Homo sapiens: one gene and its partner. The protein of the gene in region 1 interacts with the protein of each later gene in a biochemical or structural test. Each region holds a gene or a part of one and is shown on either strand. Other genes may lie near its edges.

Region 1 (7,379 bases):
TTGAATTTTTCACAAATATGTTGGAAATATAATCATTTGAATATTTGCAGTGGTTATGAGCACAGACTCAGGTTCAATTTTGGCTCAGTCACTTACTTGTTGTGTGACCTTGGGCAAGTTTTAAACTTCTTTCTAAGCCTCAAGTTTTCATCTGTAAAATGAGAATTATAACAGTACCTACTTCATAGACGTTAAAGGAATCTATTAAATAAAACACACACACAAAGAGCCTAGCATAGTGCCTCGCACATAGCTAAGGAATGTTAACTTATTACTACCAAGACTATAGTATATTTATGTGTGTTAATATAATCATTATATTAATGTGGTGAGAAGTAGGATTTAACTGTATACCTTGAGGAGTACATACATGGTAACAATTGTTCCAGATTTCTTCAGTAACTTAGTCTCAGAGTGCTCTTTTAAAAAGTTCTGAATAGATTTTCTTCTTGGAAATAATACTTTTTGAAAAGTGTAAACTTTGATATGTACTACATACCAAAAGAACAAGTAAAGGAAGCTTTGTTGTGTTTTAATGCAAACCACACAGTAAAGCTTTAATTTAATCACCTTAAAATTAGGGGAACAAACAGGAAGTGTTGTAATAATTGATTGTTTTTTCGTATTTACCTTAATAAATGCCTTGACCATAGTCCCAGTTTGGTACCAGATAAAGATATTTATACATGTAATATGCATCCTGTGTATAGATATCTTATGTATTCCATATGCTTTATTCTTGAGAATTTCTTCACTCTTATTTTCATTTAGACTAAGGAGAAATCAAGAAAGCCTATTTCCTTAGTCATCTTAGTCATTATCCACCCCCACCAGCCCTGCAGGCTAAGAACATCGTGCAGACTGAGTTATTAAAGTTGATCTGAAAGAGCAATCTGTTCTAAATGACTGTCCCTGGATCTGCAACGGAACCCTGTAAATACCCTTCATTACTCTGGCGGGGCAGTATCACATTTCCTTCATGGCACTTTTGTGTCTGACACAAGTTAGGCAGTGAGATTTGGACTTTAGATGATCCTGGTTGATTGATATAGGAATGGTGCTTCTCCTGAGACAGGTAACCACAAATTTACTTCTCAGGATAATGTTTTAAAGTGGGTGTTCTGTTTAGTTTTTAAAAATGTTTTTAGTTTTTAAAACTAAGTGGGTTTTGAACTTTTAGTTTTTTTTTTTAATGTTTTTAGTTTTCCCAGGCAAGCATTTTCAGTAGTTTAGATGAAAAAGAAATTTCTTAGTGATTTCATTGTCTTTTTCAATTATATTGTTGTCATGCCTTTTATATAAGATCTTTTATAATCCACCACCCATCTATTGTTTTGGATAGTCAAGAACTTGTCTTTGCTGTGAAAATTTTTCTCATTAAAAATGGCTAAAAAATACATACTTTCTCTGTTTTTCAAAAATACGGCATAGAGGTTTTGTTTAGTTTTTTCATCTGATACTGGATATGTCAAGATGAATCTATGAACTTCAAGCAAAACTTATTGAAGCTTTGGTATATGTGAGTAATTTGTTTTAGAGAACTGGAGCCTATAGCGATATAAAAAAATAGCAAATGCAAACATTTTATATGAATCTACTAGCATGGAAATTCTCCCATGCTTACCGTCCAAGTGAAGACTTCCTCTGCCATAGAACTTCCAGATTCCTTGGCATTCCTGTGGATCATCCCAATGTGAGTAAATTGTTTCTGTGGCTGACTGACTGAATTAAGAAAACAGCTGAAGGCAAGCACAGGATCGTGTTCAAACCACAAGAAACACATGTGTTGGATGAGCCACTCAACTTTATGGGGAAGGCTTAAGACATGTAACCAACCTTGTGTTTGCTTGCCACTTAACAAAGTTTGTTTTTAACTATGTTGGGCATTAGAAAGTTTTAAAGATTATTTTTTGTATCAATAAACTCTGATGAAATCTTGAACTAGTAGGTTTGTGATATAATGTTTATACAATTACAACTGAAGATAAGCAAGGCAGGAGCTGGGTTATTTGGAAGCAGAAATTAGTTTTTAAAAACTAAAATCTAAAATATGTTTGATGTACTATAACCAGAGTGTTCACAATTACTAAATATTATTTATTTAAAACATTTATATTCAGCTTTTTTTCAAAGAGCTCAAAAATTGTGTATGGTATCTGTATTTGAAAATGTTGCAGTAAAAATGAAAAGAGAAAGATGACTGCCATTCAGAATGTCTTTGGCTTCTCTTTTCTTTTTTTTTTTTTTTTTTTGAGACAGTCTTGCTGTGTCACCCAGTCTGGAGTGCAATGGCACCATCTCGGCTCACTGCAACCTCTGCCTCCCAGGTTCAAGAGACTCTCCTGCCTCAGCCTCCCAAGGAGCTGGGACTACAGGCATGCACCTCTACGCCCTGCTAATTTTTTTTTTTTTTTGTATTTTTAGTAGAGATGGGGTTTCGCTACGTTGCCCAGGCTGGTCTCAAACTCCTGAGCTCAGGCGATCCGCCTGCCTCAACCTCCCAAAGTGCTAGGATTACAGGCGTGATCCCCCGCGCCCGGCCGGCTTCTTTTTTCTGTAACTCTTCTTTTGCATTTTAAACCTACTTTAATTCTTCATATAGATTCCTAATTTCACTGCCCAACCAGCTTTATTCTACCTTTTAGTATGAGTCTCCTTCAACCTTAGTATTCTATACCTGGGTGAAAGGTAGAATACCAGGCTTATCATGGCAGTTTGCAGGAAAGTAAAAATGTGTTTACTTATAGTGTGTTTAAACATTGCCTTTACTAGCCACCTGAAATAGAGGTTCTATTCTCCCATGGGAGAGACCTACCCAAGACCCAGCAGCACTTAACATTGATTACGGCTTAAGATCTGAGTGGGATAGTGGAGGAAGATCCTCTTTTTAAATAAAAAGAAATTGTTGGCATATCCACATAAATAGAATATGCAGAAGGACAATTAAGTGGTCTTGACATTAGTATCAGCACAAGATTAGGTAAGAGAAAAAATAAATCTGTACATTGAAGCTCTGGGTTACTGTGGTAATGAGAATAACCTGTACAGATAATTCATTTCCTCCTGTATCCTCTTCTCTCCTCAATACCAGTTATTTCAATCTGAATTATTTAAAAGTGTTCTTCATCTTTTTTTGCCTGTGTAAGCATAAAACCACATAAAAAAGGTGTAATTAAACCTCCAATGTGATCACAATAAGCAAAGAAATTTTATATCTGTTCAATGTACTATCAATAGTCTCACGATGACTGAAGAGGATAAAGATCTCTTCGTAAATTCCACGAGGTCAGAAATTTTTGTGTATTTTGTGCACTGTTTTATACTCAGTACCTGGTACACAGTAGGCATTACGAAAATAATTATCAAATGAATGAATGACTAGGAAGAAACCCTATAAGCAGTTGTATGACTTAATTAAGAAAGCTAGATTTAAACCAATGTGTTTCATGCTATCAGAATCTAAGAATGATCTTTTTAAAGAATAATAACCATCATTTAAGTCTGAATTTTCAAAGTCCTGTCTTCTACCATGATTGATAATGTTATAGCATCATTTAATCTATACTAAGCAATCAGGTTAACTTTTTTCAAGTTTATTTATTTATTTATTTTTAATTTTATTATTTTTTTTGAGACAGAGTTTCGCTCTGTCCCCCTTGTTGGAATGCAGTAGCGTGATCTCGGCTCACCGCAACCTCTACCTCCCCGGTTCAAGTGATTCTCCTGCCGCAGCCTCCTGAGTAGCTGATTTATAGGCATGCGCCACCAAACCTGGCTAATTTTTGTATATTTAGTGGAGACGGGGTTTCGCCATGTAGGCCAGCCTGGTCTTGAACTCCTGACCTCAGGTGATCTGCCCACATCAGCCTCCCAAAGTGCTGGGATTACAGGAGTGAGCCACTGCGCCCAGCCAAGGAATTTTTAACGTTAGTTACCTTGTCTGCTTTTGCTTAGCCTTTGGACGAACAATCCAAAAAAGCTCTCAGCTTTAAAACGTTAGACCTTAGCTTCAGGTTGGCTTTTCATAGCCAAATGTCCTAAAATGTATCAGTGATTTAATGAGAGTAAATTTCCTATTGATTAAAATTAAAGATCTTAAAAATTAAAATGAAGAGTTTTCATACATTTAAAAATAATGCCATTTTTTTGAATGATGAACTATGGTATAATGCATTTAGTGTTCATTCCAAACGTCAATCAATAAATAACATGGGCCTCTAGCTATAAGGGAAATTCTATAGGTAAAAGAACTGATTGACCCCCACCCCCATAGGTGCTGTCCTGCTATGGAATCCCTTTGCTCAGTTTTCTCCTGTCCAATCAGGTGGAATGTTTCACAGGCACATGGTTTATACAGCTCAAAATAACTTGGGACCTGTGAGCTGACAAATGCTCTGGCTCCGGTGGTGACAGGTTGTCCAGCTTCTTACAGCCATCTTCACTGAAACTAAGGTTAACTCCTCACTCTCTATGGACGGCTACTCTCTATTTCCAAGGGCGTGAAGAATTTCCCTCTTCTCCTGTGCTTTCATCTAAAAGTTCTCCCTGGATAATTATCATTGCAGTGGAGTGCCTGGATTGGACATCCTCATCTGGGTCAACTAAAAAAAGAAAGGTAATATCCAGATTTAAGTTCACAAGTGTGTTTTGATAACAGGGCACTGACAGTGGAAAAGCGAATATTTCAAAGAACTCATTACTGTTACTTGAAATGAAACCTAGGATAACTGTCTAATTACATATGACGGGACACGAAATTAAGTGAAAAATAAAGCTTTCCACATGTAAAGATTTTGGAGGGGATTGATGAGACTCACAGAGATCACAGACTACTTGAGTTCCTAAGGAAAAATATCTCAACAGAAGAAGTTGTGACATGTTGCATATCTCATTGGCATTTTCCACACATTCATTTATTAAAAGAATGTTGTTTATATAGAGAATATGTAAGCAATGCCAGTTTCCTTTTTAAAGGAAGTTGAATCTAAAATAATATGCCTGCATAAAGACTTTCATTTTAAATTTTTTTATCATGTAAAAGGATACGCTTGCTATATTTAGTGTTGGGAGATCTGCTCCCTGGATTAATGTACACAACAGCTGCAGAAAGTCTTGCTCAAGGGACATTGCTCTTTCTTTCTCCTTTCTCTCTCTCTCTCTCTCTCCGTCTCTTTCTCTCTCTCCCTTTTCAGCTGCATCAGAAAGACACTTGACAGTCAGTGGCAAATGTTTGGCCTGGTACATTGCACTATTAGCAGTAATAGATGCACATCTTGAGTTAAATTTTAAAAACTGTATAAGCAAAGACAGAGAAAAGATGGATTATTATGTATTTCCAGTCCTCAAAAGTGAACATTACAGTAATGGTGTTAAGGAATTTTAGTAACTTATCAACAGATTTTTATATGCTTATTAAAGATATTAACATCAGCTTGAAAGAAACAACACAGTCATCCAGTTTTCTTTCTCAAAAAAGTATGATTCAATTACTTTTACTTTAGTAATAATGAAATGAATCCTACAAACACTAAATTAAAAATTTGTCATAACTTTATAGTCTCTCCTTAATAATAACAGCTCTTGAGTTCACATAAAATTCATAATCCTTTTCTAGGAAATTGAGAATGTCTATACTTACAGCTATCATAAACATATTTTTTAAAACAGAAAATAAGATATACTGTCCGACACATGATTTGACAACAAGCAAAATATTTAAAATCAAGGCCATCCCAAGAAATCTGAAATATATGGATAATATACTTACAGAGGTGTCAAGAGATAAAATTATAGGCCTTACAGAATCTTATAATAATGGACTATGAAACAAACAGTTGAACACTATCCAAATTCTGGAAGTGTGTCTCTATCCCCACTTATAGTATATGGCTAATGCTACTGGAACTCATAATAATGTGTTAAAACCCCAGTCTTCCATATATCTACAATTTATAATATAGACACTACTACAATATGCTTACAAAGGCACTTTCAGTAGAACAGACACAGAACCACAATTTATGGACACAAGAAGTTGAATGAGTTTTTGTCCAAGCTGGTTTTGGAATTCATAGTGGTAGTTTTTGCAAATTTGCTTTTGAACATATGAGACAACAGGTAAATCAGGTTCCATTTTGAAAGGGTTTTAATGAACTAATGTTGGTATGTGAAAAAGTGAGAGTTCAATTTTTCAACAGTTAGTTCCTACACGTAATAGGAATAGTAGACTCAGTTCACTAACCTGAAAATATAAGTCAAATGCTCCTGCCAACCCTAGAACAATTAATTTTTTTTTCATTCACATTGAGATTTGACAAAGATGTTGCTGGTCTCATGGTGTTAGATAACAAGATAGAAAAATGAAAGGGTTTTCTTAACAGGTTTTCCCCTCTCCTAGGGGATGATATTTTTTAAAATATCTCTGTGGTGCTTCATGGTTGACCAAATGCTTTTAAAACTACTATAACATTACCCATTTGCTTAAAGGGAACAACTTAGGTAGAGACTAAATGGTCTGTTTAGAAATTTAAGAACAATTTCAGCAGATATATTTTTGGTGGGAACAAAGGTTGGTGGGACTATTTACCTGCAGTAGCTATAGAGTTCTCAGAGTTCATGTATAACCAGAGTCACCTTGACAAGCTCTGTGCAGGCTCCCTGCTACGGAGACCTCCACTCGGAGTCACAGTGCACTCCACTCTCAGGGAGGGGCCCAATAGAGCCTCCCAACAAAGTGCTTGAACTAGAACTTGATCTTGAGATCCCTTGGGACACCTACTGCTCTCTCAATCTAGCAAATGTATTATGTCAATTTAATTAGGGAAGTTAGCTTTTTTCAAATCCTTAATTACCTTAAAAATGACACAAATAGTAAGAAGCTGAAGAAGAATGAAAGTGTTAAATTTTTGCATTTAAAAAATAAATATTTGAGTTGATAGGGATTGACGAAGTTTTCCCATTTGGGATTTCCTTTATAACAGTTTGGTTCATTATGAATGGTGAGATCTTGAGAGTGATATAAAACCTCCTATGCCTATCACTTTTGTGACAACCACCAAACCCTTTTTCTTTTTTGATCCTAGATTCTTGAAGTCTTCTTGATTGCCTTCCATGAGACTTTCTATGGGCCATAGGATTTATTTTTTACAATATTTCTTCTCTGTCTTTCAGATTAAATAGTACCTTTGAGCTCTGGCTGCAGTGTCTTTCACTAGCGCTTCCCTACATGTTTGTCATCCTCTGGATACAAAAACATACATAATACGCTTCGTAGGAGCCAGTCTTTTTTCTCCCACTCAAACGAAATCTTTACTTTCTTTCCTACATTCTTACTTTTACCAATTCGATTAAAATAATAATAAGAAAATGGCCTACTCACC
Region 2 (17,116 bases), about 23 Mb from region 1:
GCTCCAGCTTCCATTAACTTCTCCACAATTGCCAAATGTCCTTCCAAGCATGCTCTATGAAGAGCTGTCCGTTTATACTATCAGAACAGAGATTTTAAACAGAGATAGCAATAAATATAAAAATGTGTGTAAACCCTTTTAAGAGCTATGAAGCTGGAGATTCTGATGACCTAACTGATAGAAACTCAAGTGCTTCTTTATGAATAGAAATGTCAAAGTTAACTAAAATTGCAGAATCAGAACAATTATCCTGCAACTAATATTTGAGCTTCCTCCAATATACATTTCCAAGGGCTCAAAGGCCTACGTTGAGGAGTGTGAACTTAAAGGCTCAAAACTATCTAAATGCTGACATCTCCGTTTCTTCTATCTTGCACCTTCCTTGTTCATGTAGCATTACCATGCAGATCAGACAGCTTTCTTGCATCTGGGACTGTTGCTAGACTATCAAAAAGTTTCCATTCATTTTTAGGAGAATGGGAGACATGTTTTTAGTTCAACTTCAGAAGCGGTCCCCAATTTCACTTCATGGGGGAAAGAATACAAAAAGATTAGTGATTTCTGATAAATTGGCTTTATTTGAATGGGCTAATGAACTATTAGAGCTGGAACAACTTTAGGCGTTATTTCACTCCAATGCCCCATGTTTACAGATAAGGAAACCACAGCCCAGAGGATGCAAATTAGCTGCTCAAAACCAAATAGCCAAGTAGTGGTACAACTGGCCCCTGAACTCCAATCTCCAGATTTCTTATCTAGTGTTGACGTGCTTGGTTTTAATCAAAGATGATGCTAATAATATATCTCTAAAGGTGACTTTTTGGCCCACATTAAAAGTCTTATCCCAAGAATCTAAGAAGTTAAAGAAAAACTGAAAAATCAGCCAGATGTATATGAGTGCAAAAAACAATGCAATCCGTATCACTGATCTAATATCTATTTATTTTTTGGACCACTGAACTCTCCTATTAGGCTCCTGGCATACACAGCAACAGCTGGGGAAACTGTTTCAGGTGGAAGGACTTTGGCACTATATTAGCAAGACTGGAGTAAAGCATAAGAAACATAAAATTAATGAGCTGGATTTTGCAGTGCTTTGCATGAGTCTTACCTCATCACAAACATCTGGATTGTTCTTGTCTGACAAGAATTTTTCTACTACTGGCAGTTTATTCTCCAGAGCAGCCTTCAGAAACGTAGGCACATCCACAGGTTCCGTCTAAAGCCAAAATAAATAAATATATATATATATATATATATATAGCATGAGAGTTACCGTGAGCTTGCCAGCATTCAATCAAACCCTCCACAGATATTTGCTCCCCTGTAGCACAACACTGGACATGTATTACTGGAAACCAAAAAAAAAGCCCTTACAATGATTTCAGGTTCTGGTTCCTTTACAACTGGAACTTTAGTTTTCCTGTATTTTTTCCTTTTCTTCAGTTGAATGATTATTTCAAGGTCTTCTAAATTTTCAAGCTTTGATCTTTGTTCTAGTTTTTTCTTTTTGAGCTAAAAAAGAAATTCGTATTTCAAAAATATGGTGAGTTCTACTGACAAGCATTCTGGTTGTGTCTAAACTAAATCTGCAAGGTCTGAGATAAACATGTGAACAGTTTGAGCAAAAACATTTTTTAAAAATTATATAAATCTTTGACTTCATTTTAGGGATTTCTTATTCAGATATTTATCTGGGAGTCTAATTTTCAGCTAATTGCCATCATCTTTACTTCTGTTGCTTGTAGAATCAGCCCTTGACCAATTGAGGACACGATCTGGTCTCTAAGTGATGACTTTGTAATTAATGCCATAAGCAAGTCTTAGATTTTTAAAGGATTTTTAAAATTATGCTCAAAACTTGGTTTAATTTTTGAGCATGATAAAAAGAATCTAACAATAAATGTTAAGCTCTGAAATATCAATGTCATTCTCTTTCACTAAGCAGAGCCTTCTAAAACAGACTGTCCAGGGACCACAGCTAACTAAAGCAAATTTTATCTGTGTTAGTAATTAAGGAAAATTCACCCAGAAACACAGATTGTGTCAACACAGATAGCAGACAGTTAAACAATGATCTATGGACCACAGACCATGTTATTGAGAAAAAGAGATCTCCGTTGCTTGGGATTAACTACATGGTGTGTAACATCAGGAATTCACTGGACATGTGTATCTTTCAATCAAAACATGGTCACAGCACATTTATTCATTGATTCAGAATTCAGAGGTCATAGTCTTGTCAAAGAGTTATTTCCCAAAACCTGTTCCATACAAGTTGCCTCTTTACGGGTTAGAATCTGGTAAAGAGACATCTTAATGATTGGGTTTGTTTCTCTCTTCTCCTTCCCTGACATTTCCATTCCCTACCCCAGCCCCAACATCCTACTAGTGGATTCCACAGATGGCTCTCACCTCTGCCTCTCGTTGTTTCTCGCTTTTCCACTGTTGCTCCCCCAGGGTCACAGGGTGGGCTAGAAGTGTCTTCAGATCCTCCTGCTTCTCTAAAGTAACAGCAGCTTCATACTCTCCATCTCTGAAATCCTCAGGAAGGAATTCCCCTGCCTCCCCATTGCCATTCTTCTTTCCAGTGACCTATGAGGGAAGAAGATGGCAGCGTCAGAAGCAGCAGCCTCGTCCTGGGTCATTCTTCACAGACAATGCCGCAGGAGGCTCTTGGTCCTTCTCCCCTGGGAACAGCCACCTTTGAGCAGTGCACTCTCAGATCTCAAGCTGCGATGCACACTGCTACAATTGTCCCAGAATTACCTTCAGATGCTTGTCCTACTCTCTTGGTTAAATCAAAGCTTGGGTTAGGTTGACAGATTAAATCTACTTTTAATCTGCTTAATCACATTTCTTTTAGGAAAATCAAAAACCTTCTCTGCTTAATTAAAACTCAACTTTAGGTACTTTTGATGAGTTTCGCCTTATTGTAAAGTTTCCGGGCTTACATTCTTTCAATAACACTTCTTCCCTAAGACATTTTGATAACTACACGTGATTCCACACTGTAGTAATAAAACCAAAGGAGAAGATATTAAATAGGAAATATGCAGAGAATTCATTACTGGTAGCTCCATTTTTTTTTTCCAATTTCACTTGTTTCATCACATCAACCTTTTTCCATATATGACATTTTCAGAGTTCCCTTGCATTACACCTGAAAGCAAAGGGCATTTCAATTTTCAAATAAAAACCAAGATGAACCAGTTTTCATTTTATAAAATTAATGCATCTTACATACCAGTTCCTCTACTTTCAGTACCATCATGTTGGCTGAAGGAGTCTTGTATGTTTTTCTGTCGTGGAAGGAATCCCTGGAGTTGGCCCTGCTGGGCCCCTCCACACCGGTCAGCTTATATAGCTGGGGCCGGGTGAGATAATCTTCCAACCTGGGAACCGAAGTAACACTCCCACCCCCATTAGGAGCCAACTCAGAGGCAGGTGAATTTTCATTCCAGACTCAGTGTCTGGGAAGCTGAAGAGGGAGGGGAGGACAAGCTAACCCTGCTGAATATGTGAATCAGGAAGAAATGTGAGAGGGCCATTCCTTTGGTGGTGATCACATCGCTCAGCAATGCAAGTCATCCTATTTGTCAAGAGTCAGGGGACAGCTGTCTGTTGACATTGCACCACATCACTGCCCTTTTTTTCTTTGTCAGCTTTCATATGACTACCTATCAAGAAAATGTAGATGCCCTACATATCACACCCCCAGTAATATCTTTCTGATAAGCAGACTTATCAACACTTCACTTAGGGGAAACTTGTCCCAGGACATCCTATTCCCTGGGTAAACAGCCTGAGGGGAAGGGATCTGGGCCCTAAAGGCACTTGTCTATATCTGTTTGGAATTCTTTGGAGTGATGTCTGGGGCTAAATAGGCCCCATGACATGCCACCTTACCATCATTATAAGAAATTGAAAGCATTCAGTAATGCACTTTTCTTTTATGATGTCACTGGCCATAATTAGCACATGACATGCTTACCGTGTTCTAAAACAGCATAATAATTGGAGCATTTTTACTTCAAAATGGATCAGAGTGGTCAAGAAATAGAGTAAATGAAACCAGCTATCAGCCGGGTGCAGTGGCTTACACCTGTAATCCCAACATTTTGGGAGGCAGAGACAGGAAGATTGCTTAGCTTAGGAGTTCAATACTAGCCTGGGCAACATGGCAAAATCCCATCTCTACCAAAAATACTATATATATATATGAAAAAAATGAGACCAGTTATTAGCAATGGCAGGACTCTGATTAGGTCATTGAGCTGAAGTTCTCAAATGCTGTGGGGAAAGGAATCACCTGTGGGAGCTTGTCAGAAATACAGATCCCTGGGCCCCACTCCAGGGAATTCTGAGTTGATTTATGGTAACTCGTAGGAATCATCTTGAATTTCAAAGCACCCAGATGATTCTGATGCATCAAGATTTGAGACACGTGGCTGGAGGGATAATGCACTTTGCTTCCGGAAGGGTTGAAAAAGGTCTCTATTTCTGGTTTCTAATCTTTGAGGTGTAAATTATGTAAAAATACTGGGGTCTTTTTATAGTTTCAGGAAAAACTGGGTTTTTTTCAGTAAAAGAAAGGAGAGAAGAATGGGAGAAGGGAATTGTGAATGGAGGGAAGTGTTAATTAGGAAGTTATGTTTGACCTTTGTGTGTCTATTTCTCCCCAAACTCACCCAATCAACAAATGTGGCTGCCATTCTCCTCTTCCCCCTTGAATGCTCAGTCAGTGGATGGTGTTTCTGAAACTTTGAGAAGACATCGACTCCCCACCCCAAGACAAAACATTGACAAAGAGGGACCCTCCCAGTACCTCCTGTATCATATGTTCCGGTCTCCTAATATTCTATCTTAAAAGGGGGTTAATTAAAGGAAATCTCCTGGGCTTTTCTTTGAGATGGACACAGCTATCACTATTTTCTTTTTAATTTTTTCCTTTTCTCTTTATTATTTATTTATTTTTAATATATGGAATGTTTCACAAATTTGTGTGTCATTCTTGCACAGAGTCCATGCTAATCTTCTTTGTATAGCTCCTATTTTAGTATATGTCCTGCTGAAGCAAACAGAGTCATTACTATTTTCATTGGTCTCTTCATCTAAGTCAGAAGTAGTCATGGACACTTTTTCTACCATTTCGTATGCCTTTTTGTTCCAGGCCTGACCCAAACTGAGGGAGGTATTAGGAGGAGAAGTGTTTGGGGGAAGGACTGTGGGATGTTTAAGGGTCTTGGATATGAAATCCCAGAGCTGTCCATGCCCTCGAAGTTGGAGCAAGACTAATGCTCTCATTTTACAGAGAGGATGCTGAGGCAAAGAAACATTAAGTAACTTGCTGCAGATGCACAGCTAGTTGGTGAATGCTAGGTTGAAGAGTCCTGATTCCATCCAACAGAAGCAGACAATCATTGAGCCCAAAAGATTTCCTAGGGCAAGTCTCACCTAGACCCACTCAGGATGCAACCAAAACTGATTAAATGGCTCCTTACTGTTTCAATCACCTCAAAGAATGCAAGTGAAAGTGGGCAGGGAGGCTTACCAAGCCCTTTTCTTTCTCCAGGCATTTAATTATCCCTTGAAACCTAGCTGATTCTATAGAGAGGCTCCAGGAAGTCTTGAAGAAAACTTTGCAGAGGATGACACTTGAAGATGAGTTGATGGAATGGGCTGAACTTAAAGGAGCACGCTGGTGGATGCAAGGATGTCAGGGCTGGTGAAATCACTGCCAGTTCAACCTTTTCCCATGTTGATCCAGCTTGTCATTATAAAACATGAGAGGTACAACTTGAGGATAAGTGGTCAGAAGATGTAAAAAGAATATGACAACAAATAAAGAAAAAAAACATGAGAGAATCTGCTTTTTGAAAAGAGATTCTAGGCACCTTTAGCTCTCTAAAAAGATAAAAACAACAACCATTGTATTTTCAAATCGTTCTTATTCATCAAAATTGAGAAAAAAATTCCCCTGGCGGAGAGTTTTCTGTCATTTGTTTTTCAGAAGCATCCTTCCCATAAAAGTTCACCCAGTGGTGTAAATTCTTATATTTGTGTATTTGGCTTTATCATAGCCTCAATCTGGACATAATCTATCCTTACTAAGATGAATTAAAACAATAAAGGTCCTAGTTGGTTCTACAATCATAAAGCAACTTGGCATCACCCATCTCCAACCAGAAAGAGTAAAGGAAGCATCCCTGAGCTTCTCCAGTGTCACCCCATGAGCCTTTTCCCACTCCCCTCAGGATTTATGCATTTCCATGGGTGAAATGACATGTGACTAGAATTAGGACCATGGTTATAGCTGGAGAAAGTGAGAAGCAGAGAAGTAGCACCTAAAGCAATTACTGCTGTCACCTAGGGATTAAAAGAGGCGCTTGGACCCCACCCAGATCCATGTGCCATAGCTCAGCTCCAAGTCCAAGGGCAGTTTTATCTTTCTGTATAAAATATGAAGTTCCAGACGTTCTACTTCTACTCCAACTTTTCATTCTTATATTTTAACTATATAATAGACACATTATTGTTAAAAATAGCACAGAGAATGTTATTTAGTTCAGATCTTACTGTCGATTTGATACTTGATTATTTTTCGCTCAGTAACCGTGTCTTACAGATTGTCTCCTATCTGCACAAACAAATCTATCTTGCTATTAGAAACAACTGCATGAATTTCCATGCACGGACCTACCATTTCTTATTTAACCACTTTCTCATTTGTGGACATGTAGGCTGTTTTTTTAAAATGGGCATTTTTATTTTCTAAAAAGGCATTTTATAGCACATAAAATTTTATTGTTATTAACACTCCTTGTCCTTAGAACACCCAACTTGATACTAAAAGGAAGTGCTCCAAGGACTGTAGCCAGATTCTGACTTGGAAACCTCCTTGTTCCACTGTTGTACTTACAATTGCTCATTTTGCCATCCCTTTTAATAGCCTTCCCAGTCCCAGCTGTTACGCACCTTCCTTGGCCCAGAGAAGTGGCTGACTTAGCCTGACCAGCAAGCCATGGCTCAGTTACGTGTTTGAAAATGCCAAAGGAAGGTCATAAAAGTGAAGCAAATAAGGTTTAATGTTGTTTCCCCTCCCCTGCCAGGAATGGGATAACCTGTATTTGAAAAGCAGAAAAGTACTGGAAACATTTTCAGCAGGATTGTGGCACCTGCCTTCCTTGCCTCTCGAAAGGCAGAATCAAGACTAAAGTCCTTCTGCCCAGGACTCTGGATAGAAAGGGCACAAACTGCCCTAACACAGTTGGGCTGCCCACAGTAGGTTACTTTTTACGGATATCGGTGGCCTCCTGACGTTAGAGGTAGGTGAAGGCTGTAGGTCTCACCTCCACACCTTACAGCAGGTGCCTTGTTACAGTAAATAAGGTATCTCAGTGCAAATTCTGCCACACATATGAACTCACACCAGCCAACAGGCACAAAGGGCCACATGCACTATTCAGTAAACTCATGAAGCCCAGCCCTTTGTCCATTTAGGCCCTTGGACAGTGTCCAGCACAAAAGATTCGCTTGACTAGGCATGGTGGCTCATGCCTGTAACCTCAGCACTTTGCGAGGCCAAGGCAGGAGGATCACTTGACCCTAGGAGTTCGAGACCAGCCTAGACAACATAGCGAGATCCTGGCTCTATGTTTTTTTATTTAAAAAAAAATAAAAGAAAAAGTTTCACTTGAAGCAAATGAAACCACAACCACATTCTGGCAGCATATTTCAGCTAATTTTCTAGTCCACTCAAGGTGATTACAGACTCCTCCACATATGGCCTAACACAAGATAGGATGGAGTCCTAGCACTCACTATAAGCCTAGGACTCCAACTGCATAGAAAAGTGCCTGACACATAGTGGGGCTAAATAAATATTTACCTGAGACCCAGCAGGGCTCATATTCTTTTCTAACCAAACCACATATTTCAAATTCTCCTTTCAATGAGAAATAATTGGTAACATTTCTCATGCTAATTAACCATTAATCTGTCAATACTATCAAAGGTAAAGATAGGTAAAGTACTTGGGATTACCTCCACTGGAGTGGGGGCAGCTCATTAGTGTCTTTCAAATGCTAACTAACCCCAACAGTTGTAATCGCAGAGTCAGGGCTTCTCAGGTGTGAACTAACATTTCTTCAAGCAGTGATTCTCTAAGCTGGGTGCATCTTAGAATCCTCTGTGAAGCTTCTAAAAAAATGCTGATGCCCAGGCTTCAGCTCAGGCACATGAAATCCAAATCTCTGCTCAAAGATCCAAGGAATTGGTATTTTTTAAAGTTTTCCAGTTGATTCTAATTTCCTCCCAGCATTGAGAATACTGCTCGAGGGTGTAGAATTAAATGAATATGTATCTAAATACACGTGTATTTTCTCCAAGTTGTAGTGGACAGTCAAGCTATTGTTATTCTGGTCTCAGAATTTTGATTGTTGAAGACTCTTGCCTATGCTAAGACCATGGGAAACACACACATACAATTTACTCATTTATTTTTTATTTTATTTTATTTTATTTTATTTTATTTTATTTTATTTTATTGTTTTGAGACAGAGGCTTGCTCTGTTGTCCAGGCTGGAGTACGGTGGCACGATCTTGGCTCACTGCAACCTCTGTCTCACGGGTTCAAGCAATTCTCTTGCCTCAGCCTCCTGAGCAGCTGGGACTACAGGTGCATGCCACCATGCCCAGCTAATTTTTGTATTTTTGGTAGAGATGTGGTTTTGCCATGTTGGCCAGGCTGGTCTTGAACTCCTGGCCTCAAGTGATCCTCCCGCCTTGACCTCCCAAAGTGCTGGGATCACAGGCATGAGCCACTGTGCCTGGCCTACTCATTTAATATTTATTTAGCTCTACTTTGTGTCAGGCATTTTTCTAGAGCTGAGATATACTTATGCTCTCAAGAGACACACGACTCTGCCCTCACGGCATTCACACAGTTTTACTGAAGTATTTAACAAAAACTACAGACAATATAACATGCTTCTTCTGCCACAAATCAAGAAGAGTGAGGCGAGACAGTAGTTTTGTGGGTCTGGTGGGGATGGGATGAAGAATCAGGAGGCTTACCTCTAAATCCTGGCTTTGCCCTGTGTTCACTGGAGCAAGTCCTCTCACCTCTTACCATCTCAAATCCTGAAGTTATAAAAGGAGAGCTGAGAACAAAATGATTTCTAGGGCCCTAAAGTTTTACTGAGGTCTCAAAGTCACTGAATCAAAAGGTAGAAATAAACATTCATAACTGCAGCATCACGTGCGGACAGTGAAGTTGATTCTCCAATGCCTCTAAAAGAGGAAACGGTCCATAAAGCTTTCACTAGCCCAGGATATTTCCACTATCTTTAAGACATTCTCCCACTTGATAAACATAAAAATTTCACACTCTCTGTTACATGGATAGAAATTTCAAGAAGATCAACTTGGGGTCAAGATGAAATAAAAGTAGTGGTAATTTTGATTATGCCTCTTCAAACCTTCTAAGACCGCAGAGATTTTTATAAGGCCTCATCCTCTTTCTTCCCCTTCTGAGAATCCCTGCCCAAGCTCTTGCCTAGGCTGACATCTGTCCCCATAGAAAAGGTAGTGATAAGTGTCCAGGAAGGGATCTCAGTGACTTTCTATTACATTCTTATTTCCCCAAATAATGGGTTCTTGTTTAGGCCCCCTACACTGGTTCCCAGAACATTAGGAAGGCAGAGCCTCTAACAATCAACATTCTGGGATTGTGATAAGGACAACTGGCCTGTCTATTACAACCTCAAGAAGAATGGGTGTGAGTGGGAGAATCAGTTAAAATGTGAATGCATAATGGTTCCCCTCCCACCCCTCAACTTTCTCAAAAGCCAAATTTACTTCATGAGATTAAATTTCACTCAATGGACGGTGGGATGATGGAGAGTTTGCGTTGAGATGATTTTTTAAAAGGAAGTTTGATTGTCATAGTAACGCTCTGAAAAGATTTTGATGCAACTTTGGAATTACTTCACACCCAATTACATAGAACATCTACTTGGAATGAGAGATAAGTGCTTCTGTGACTGCAAACATAGATAGAAAATCCATTAACCTTTTTAGCCATTTATTAAAGCAGAGGAAAATTATTTTTAAAATGCAATTTCTGACTTCAAGAAGAAGTACCGAAAAAAATATTTTCTTGGTGTAGTTTGGAGTTTCCTAATAAAGGGCAAATGCCACAGAATATCTTCACTATGGATTCCTTGGGAATCAGAGAAATTTAGGGCCAGTAACACACTGAGTGGTCATTGAGTCCACTCCCTGACCAGGAAGGGCCAGAGTTAGGCAGGTAGAACCCTATTACTTTAAAAACTAAAACCTCCCTTTGTCGTTATCCTCATATTTAAAAATCTTACTGCAATACAGTTTCTTGTGGCTTACTTACAGCTGGGCAGCTTAGTCTGTTTGTCTCATTCTAGCTTCAGGAATGATCATCACCAAAAACACGTATTGAGCATTTTTTCCGATGACTTTTGCTAGTCAAAGGGAAAAAAGCTAAAAGGTGAAATTACTGCCATTGAACTGCCATTACTTGAACTGCCATTACTTGAACTACCTTCATCCACTGGATCAAAACCATTTTCATAACTGGGTATTGTTAAGCTCTTCAGAACATAGGCTTTTGGACCATTAGAAGGGCTTTCACATCGTCTAGTCCAGTTCTGTAACTGTACACACTGGAGCAAATGACACCTGAAGAGGTTCTATACATATGTATTATCTTACTCATTCAATACGTTTGTTTAGTCTGTTCCTGTGGGACAACTTGACATTATCCATTTCCTGAAGTGCTGCAACAAGAAATACCGTACACACCATCACTTATGTTCTTACCAAAAATTTTACCCTGAATCCAATTTCAGACAAATTCAGAATGTAGGACATTCAACAGGGCAACTATCTTGGGCTCTTCAAAAAGGTAAATGACTAGAAAAACAAAACAAAAAAGAAGTGAGGAATTGTTCTCTCTTTGATTAAAAGAGAAGAAAGAGCATGAACCTTGGTGGGATCCTGTAATTCAAGACACAAAAGCTGTAAAATACATTTTGAGGACAACTGGAGAAGTATGGAAGGTATTTTAGACAATATTATTAACTGAGTGATGATTTTCTTATGCATGATGATGGTTTTGTGGTAATGGAGGAGAATGTCCTTATTGTTAGGAGATGTATTCTGAAGTATGTAGGAATGACCTATGATGCTTTCAAATGGTTCAGCAAAAGAGGTATGCATGTGTGTAGAAAGAGAGAAAGATGAGAGAGAGTACAACTGTAAAATATTAACAATTAGCGAATCTAGGTGACAGTGCTCATTCTACTATTCATTCAACTTTCTGTATATCTCAAAATTTAAACATGAATAAAACATTTTAGTAAAACAGACACCCTAGCACGTAAGTTTCACGAAGCAAGAGATGTTTGTTTCTCCCACTGATGTAGACCAAGTGCTGAGAGCAGTCCCCAGCACATAGTAGGCACTCAGTAAAAACGTGTTTAAACGGAAAGCAAAAAAGGAGGTGGCCCCAGCATGGGGTCAGAGGGAGGGAAGGGACAGAAGCCAAGAAGTGGGCAAGTCTGCTGGCACACCACCCTGACATCAGTGTTTTTCAGAGGCTTCCCTAGAGCCACAGGAATGCTACAGAATAAGGCTCCTGTGGACAGTGCCCTCTCAGCTGCACCTGCTTTTGGTGCAGGCAGCTGGGCAGAAGATTAGGTAGAGAAGACTCACCCAGCCAGAATGTCTTACCCATGTCCCCACCCACCACGATCGATCTGGAAATGGCATGGAGATGTTTCTGATGAGAGTATAAAAATGTAGGCATCCGTCAGCTCGCACTGGTTCAGCCATCCTATGTATACAAGGGAAAGCTTGAATATATGTGAAACCTCAGGGATTATGAGATCCATTAGAACCCACTTAATATTATGATGCAAATGGTGAGATTGAAGGTCTTACAATTAGGCAAGAGCTGACTGCTTTCTTCATTTGATTTTCTTTAATGGCACCAAAATAATATACTGTTTTTGAAAAGACGAGTTTTCTAAGATTCTACTAGTTGATGATTTATTATCTCATTTCCAAATTCCAGGGTTAAGGAAACATGTATATTAAGAAATGGCTAAAATATGAATGAAGCACAAATGCTCTGGGAGGCTGATGGAGGAGGAGGAGGGTACCAGGGTGGGTGTGCGAGGTCATGGTCCAGCTGAAGGCCAATGAACCGAAGGTTTCTTTATTTTCTCCTCTTTTTCTTTTTATCTTTCTTTTCTCACTTTCTTTCAATGTCTCTTTTCTTCTTTCCTCCCTCTTTGCTTCCTCTCACCCTTCTTTCTTCTCTTCCTTCCTTCCCTCCTACCTTCCTCCCTTCCATCCCCCGATTTTAAAAACCACAGTGATTGAAACTAAAGAGCTGGCCTACGCACCTCAGGGCTGAGGACTTGTTAGCTCTCCTTGCCTCCTGGCAACCATGCCCCTTCTAATAGTGACTGGTTGAGAAAGAGGCTCAGAGTCTTTTAGCTAGAATAATCCCCTCAGGCATGTCATCTCTTTCCAGTGCAGACCTGCAAGGGAGGTGATCTTATTCCCACTGAGAAGGAGCCTGGCAGTGCTTCTAAACTGAATTCTCATAAGAAAGGGAAGAGCCTGTTTGCAAAAACATACTCTTTTGCTGCCAACACAAGCAGATCTTTTAGGGAGGAGGGGAACTGTAACCCCTCCAAGATCTTTGCTCTCCTTCAGAGCCAAGGCTCTCAGGTTTCACAAAGGAATTTATAGAGCAGACTGACGCCTCTGGGGTTGGAATCAGCTCAGGACTAAGTGGAGAATGAGGAGAGGGACAGGCACCCTTCTCTGCTCTGTGCAGGCTGGGGATTGTTTACCAGGGGATGAAAAGGTCCTCTCCCTGAAAAGGAATGTTTGGCAAGGAAATGACTTCTGGAGGCACAACTGAATGGCTCCCCAGGGAATCAGTTTGGGTTAGTTACAGATCAGACCCACCACCCTGGACAAATCTCACTGGGCAGGGGCGGCGGGGCTGTGATTACAAGAGCTTGGGGATGTTTAAAGCAACTCCTGCCTTCAAAAGACAGCTGTCCTCTTTTCCAGATAAGTTCTGTATGGTAAAAGAAGGAAAAGGAAAAAAAATAGAGGTTAGAAATCATATTGAAAAATTAAAGGAATGTTTGATTTGTCCATAAGAATTTCCTGACTGTGCCACTTTGCTCAGCGCTTGTCCTAGGTCCTTCCAATATCACATTTAGTGGGTAGTGAGAAGGCGTGGAGTAAGTGACTCTGGTTGCTGACATTCACACTTGGATGAAGTGGAGAAAGATGATGTCCTTCCTTATTTGGTGGCTCTGGAAGCCACATTCCCTCCTCATCCGCCTTCCCAAAAGAACCTTGTGGCTGCCCAGCGGAAGCCAGTGCTTTCAGCAGCCCCCACCCTTGGCATTTCCTTATCTAGGAGTCTTCACTGTGGAATTCCAAGGCCCACCCCAATGCTCCGGATGTGTTTCAATCCATGGCCTGCCACTTTGTTACTCTTGTGATGACAAGCAGATAACATAGCTCACATGCCTTCTTTTCCTGCATACCAACCAGACCCCAGTTCTGAAAAGGAAACAAACCACAAACCAAGAGAGATGTGTTATTTTTATGCAGACATTGTTAAGACACTGCAATAAGCCTAGAATTGTGGAGAGTGCTTTCCCATGTTGCTCCAGTTAATCCCCTCAGTCACTCTGGCATTTATACAAATGAGGAAACCAGTGAGTGTGGAGGTTAAATAGTCAAGGTCTCATAGCAAGTGTGTGTGTGTGCATGTATGTGTGTGTATCTTGGGGGGTGAGGGTTGCCAATTCAAAGTCCAGAATGACTCCAAGTCCACAGCACCTTTGTTGCAGTTAAATGCCTTTACAACTAAGCGTGACCCCTTTGGCAATCACTACTAAGAGGCTTTACCAACTTCTGACACTGTTAACTTCAAGACAAATATGCTTTTTTCAAGACATGGCATCAAAAACTGTATTTCTGTTATTCCTCATCACCATGGTTACAACCACAACTCATCTGTAATTTTCAAAGACCCTGCATCAGAGAAACAACAAAAATGTGGAGAAAATATTTGCTGAACATGTCAGTAAATAAATAAGTATAAAATATGAAAGTGGCCAGAATATACCCAAATCAATAAATATGAATGAGTTAAATGCCTCTTTTGAAAGACAGATAATGGCCGGGTGCGGCGGCTCACGCCTGTAATGCCAGCACTTTGGGAGGCTGAGGCAGGTGAATCACAAGATCAAGAGATCGAGACCATCCTGGCTAACACGGTGAAACCCCAACTCTACTAAAAATACAAAAAAATAGCCGGGCGTGGTGGCAGGTGCCTGTAGCCCCAGCTACTCGAGAGGCTGAGGCAGAAGAATGGCGTGAATCCGGGAGGTGGAGCTTGCAGTGAGTCGAGATCGCACCACTGCATTCCCTCCTGGGCAACAGTGCGAGACTCCATCTTTAAAAAGAAAGAAAAAGAGAAAGAGAGAAAGAAAGAAAGAGACAGATATTCTTAAAATCCAACAATTCCGCTTCTGGGTGTATACCCAAAAGAATTGAAAGCAGAGTCTTGAACAGATATTTGCACACCCATATTCATAGCACCATTATTCACAATAGCCAAAGTATGGAAGAAACCCAAGTGTTCATTGACAGATGAATGAACAAGCAAAATGTGGTATTTACACACAATAGAATATTATTCAGCCTTAAAAAGGAAGGAAATGCTGACATATGCTACTACATGGATGAACCTTGAGGGCATTATGCTAAGTGAAATAAACCAAAAAGACAAATACTGTATGATTCCACTTACATGAGGTACTTAGAGCATTCGAAATCATAGAGACAGAAAGTAGAGTGATGATTGCCAGGAGCCGGAGGGAGGGGGAAATAGAAAGTTATAAGAGTTTAGAATTTCAGTTTTACAAAGTGAAAAGAGTTATGGACATGGATAATGGTGGTGGATGCACACTATGAATGCATTTAATACAATTGAAATATACTCTTAAAATGGTTAAGATAGTAAATTTTTTGGGGGGAGGAACTGGAACCCTAAAAATGAAAGAAAAATGAATTTTCTTAGAAAGATACTCTTATATGATGTAAAACAATACAAACAATAAAAGTCTATGCCATTTATAAGAGATATACCAGGATGACACTGGACGGTTGAAAATAAAGGGATAGACAAAGGGACACCATGTAAATGCTACCAAAATATGCAGAAGGGACAGTATCAGTGCCAGACAAAATCAAATTCAAAGCAAAAAGCACTAAATGGGACAAAGAAGACTGAAAGACATAATCCAACAAGAAGTTATACTAATAATTAATTTTTGTGCAATAAACAACATAGCATCGAAATATATAAACACCAAGTCTGTGTACTTAGGCATCCTAAGAATGGGTAAATATAGTAAAAAGTACTGTTTTGGCCTGATAGGAACTTGCTGTCTCTTCCAGTGGATAATTTGTCTGTAGTGTATTTAAAGCAGGGAGCTTAAGCTCAGACTTCCAGATTGGAAAGTTTCTAAGTATTTCAGGGAGAGGTTATTTATGCTGTATGAGTATTTTACGTCAGGGAAGCATTATAACAAATAGACCATAAAAATCATACCACATCCAAAGGAAAAACAAAAAGCCACAGAAGGTTCTTGGAGTGTCTCTTCAGGAAATCCTCCACACTCAAGGCTCTTGCCAGTTAGGGTAACGTGTCCATAAATTTCCTCTAACAAACCCATTCCAGCATCAGAAAATGACAAATCAATCAAATTTTGGGGGATTGATAGCTAAACTCTTCCAGGACTGTGGGCATAAATCCAGGAAAGGAATTTATGCCAAAAATTGAACCCTTTCCTGACAGAAATGGAAACGCAGACAGAAATAAAACCAGTTACTTCATTTCAACTCATATCTACCACGTTTTAGGCAAGACAGTGAGGATACAGCTTACAGCTTCTCACAGGTAAGATAAAATTTCTAGCAAAAGTAAGGTGCTGGCCAGGCACAGTGGCTTACACCTGTAGTCTTGGAGCTTTGGGTAGTTGAGCTGGAGGATCCTTTGAGGCCAGAAGTTCAAGACCAACTTGGGCAACATGGTGAAACCTCATCTCTACAAAAAGTAAGATAAAATAAAATATTAGCTGAGTATGGTGGTGCATGCCTGTAGTCCCTGCTACTCGAGATGCTGAGGTGGGAGGGGGATCACTCAAGCCCAGGAGTTCATGGTGACAATGAGCTAGGATTGAGGTACTGCACTCCAGCCTGGGTGACAGAGTGGGACTGTTTCAAAAGCAAACAAAAGTAAAGTACTAAAACACTCTAAAGCGCTCAGTTGTTAAACAAATCTCATCTCCAGTAGGGATTGAGTTACTGAAGCAAAGGGGCCAGGGAAGCCAATGACAGGGAAGGAATGGACCGGGAACCTGGGTTTTGAAATATCTTTCTCATAATTTGAGTTATATTAAAGAAAAACCTAAAACTACTAAGTGCTAATCTAGCATTTTTTAATTCTGAAAAGTCTAAATTAGACATAAGCAATTGGTTAGAAGTGCTGGATAATAATTTTCCAAGCAAAGAGGGCTTTTTTCTTCCTGATCCTTTGTCAGATATACTGAGGCATGATCCCTGTTCTTGAAAGGCAGTTGTTGCAGCTGAGCTCACTAGTACCTTATGTTCTACATCCTAAGCAAATGCATACCTCTGAACTCTGAGGGAATGCGGAGTGGAGACCCTACTAGGTCGCTGGCCAGCCAGTTTTTTGGTGTGTGAATGGGTTGAATAAACATGCATGTACACATATATATTTATGTATATCTAAATGGGTAGATAGAAAATAGATAGATAAATGACAGATAGATAATAGACAGATAAATCATAGATAGATAATAGATGATAGATAGATGATAGATAGATAGATAGATAGATAGATAGATAGATAGATAGATAGATAGTGATATGGTTTAGCTGCATCCCCATTCAAATCTCGACTTGAATTGTATCTCCCAGAATTCCCACATGTTGTAGGAGGGACCCAGAG

What was found.
Region 2: the proteins of MYPN (region 1) and ANKRD1 form a complex in vitro, tested with the Homo sapiens proteins (one study listed by BioGRID).

The regions. Positions count from the first base shown.
Region 1 is NC_000010.11:68,105,109-68,112,487, forward strand, and holds the start of MYPN (myopalladin), read left to right. Parts: upstream 1-4,379; 5' UTR 4,380-4,615; intron 4,616-7,379. UniProt on the Homo sapiens protein: Component of the sarcomere that tethers together nebulin (skeletal muscle) and nebulette (cardiac muscle) to alpha-actinin, at the Z lines.
Region 2 is NC_000010.11:90,917,754-90,934,869, forward strand, and holds the start of ANKRD1 (ankyrin repeat domain-containing protein 1), read right to left. Parts: upstream 3,335-17,116; 5' UTR 3,275-3,334; coding exon 3,248-3,274; intron 2,596-3,247; coding exon 2,416-2,595; intron 1,516-2,415; coding exon 1,378-1,515; intron 1,220-1,377; coding exon 1,112-1,219; intron 78-1,111; coding exon 1-77. UniProt on the Homo sapiens protein: May play an important role in endothelial cell activation. May act as a nuclear transcription factor that negatively regulates the expression of cardiac genes. Induction seems to be correlated with apoptotic cell death in hepatoma cells.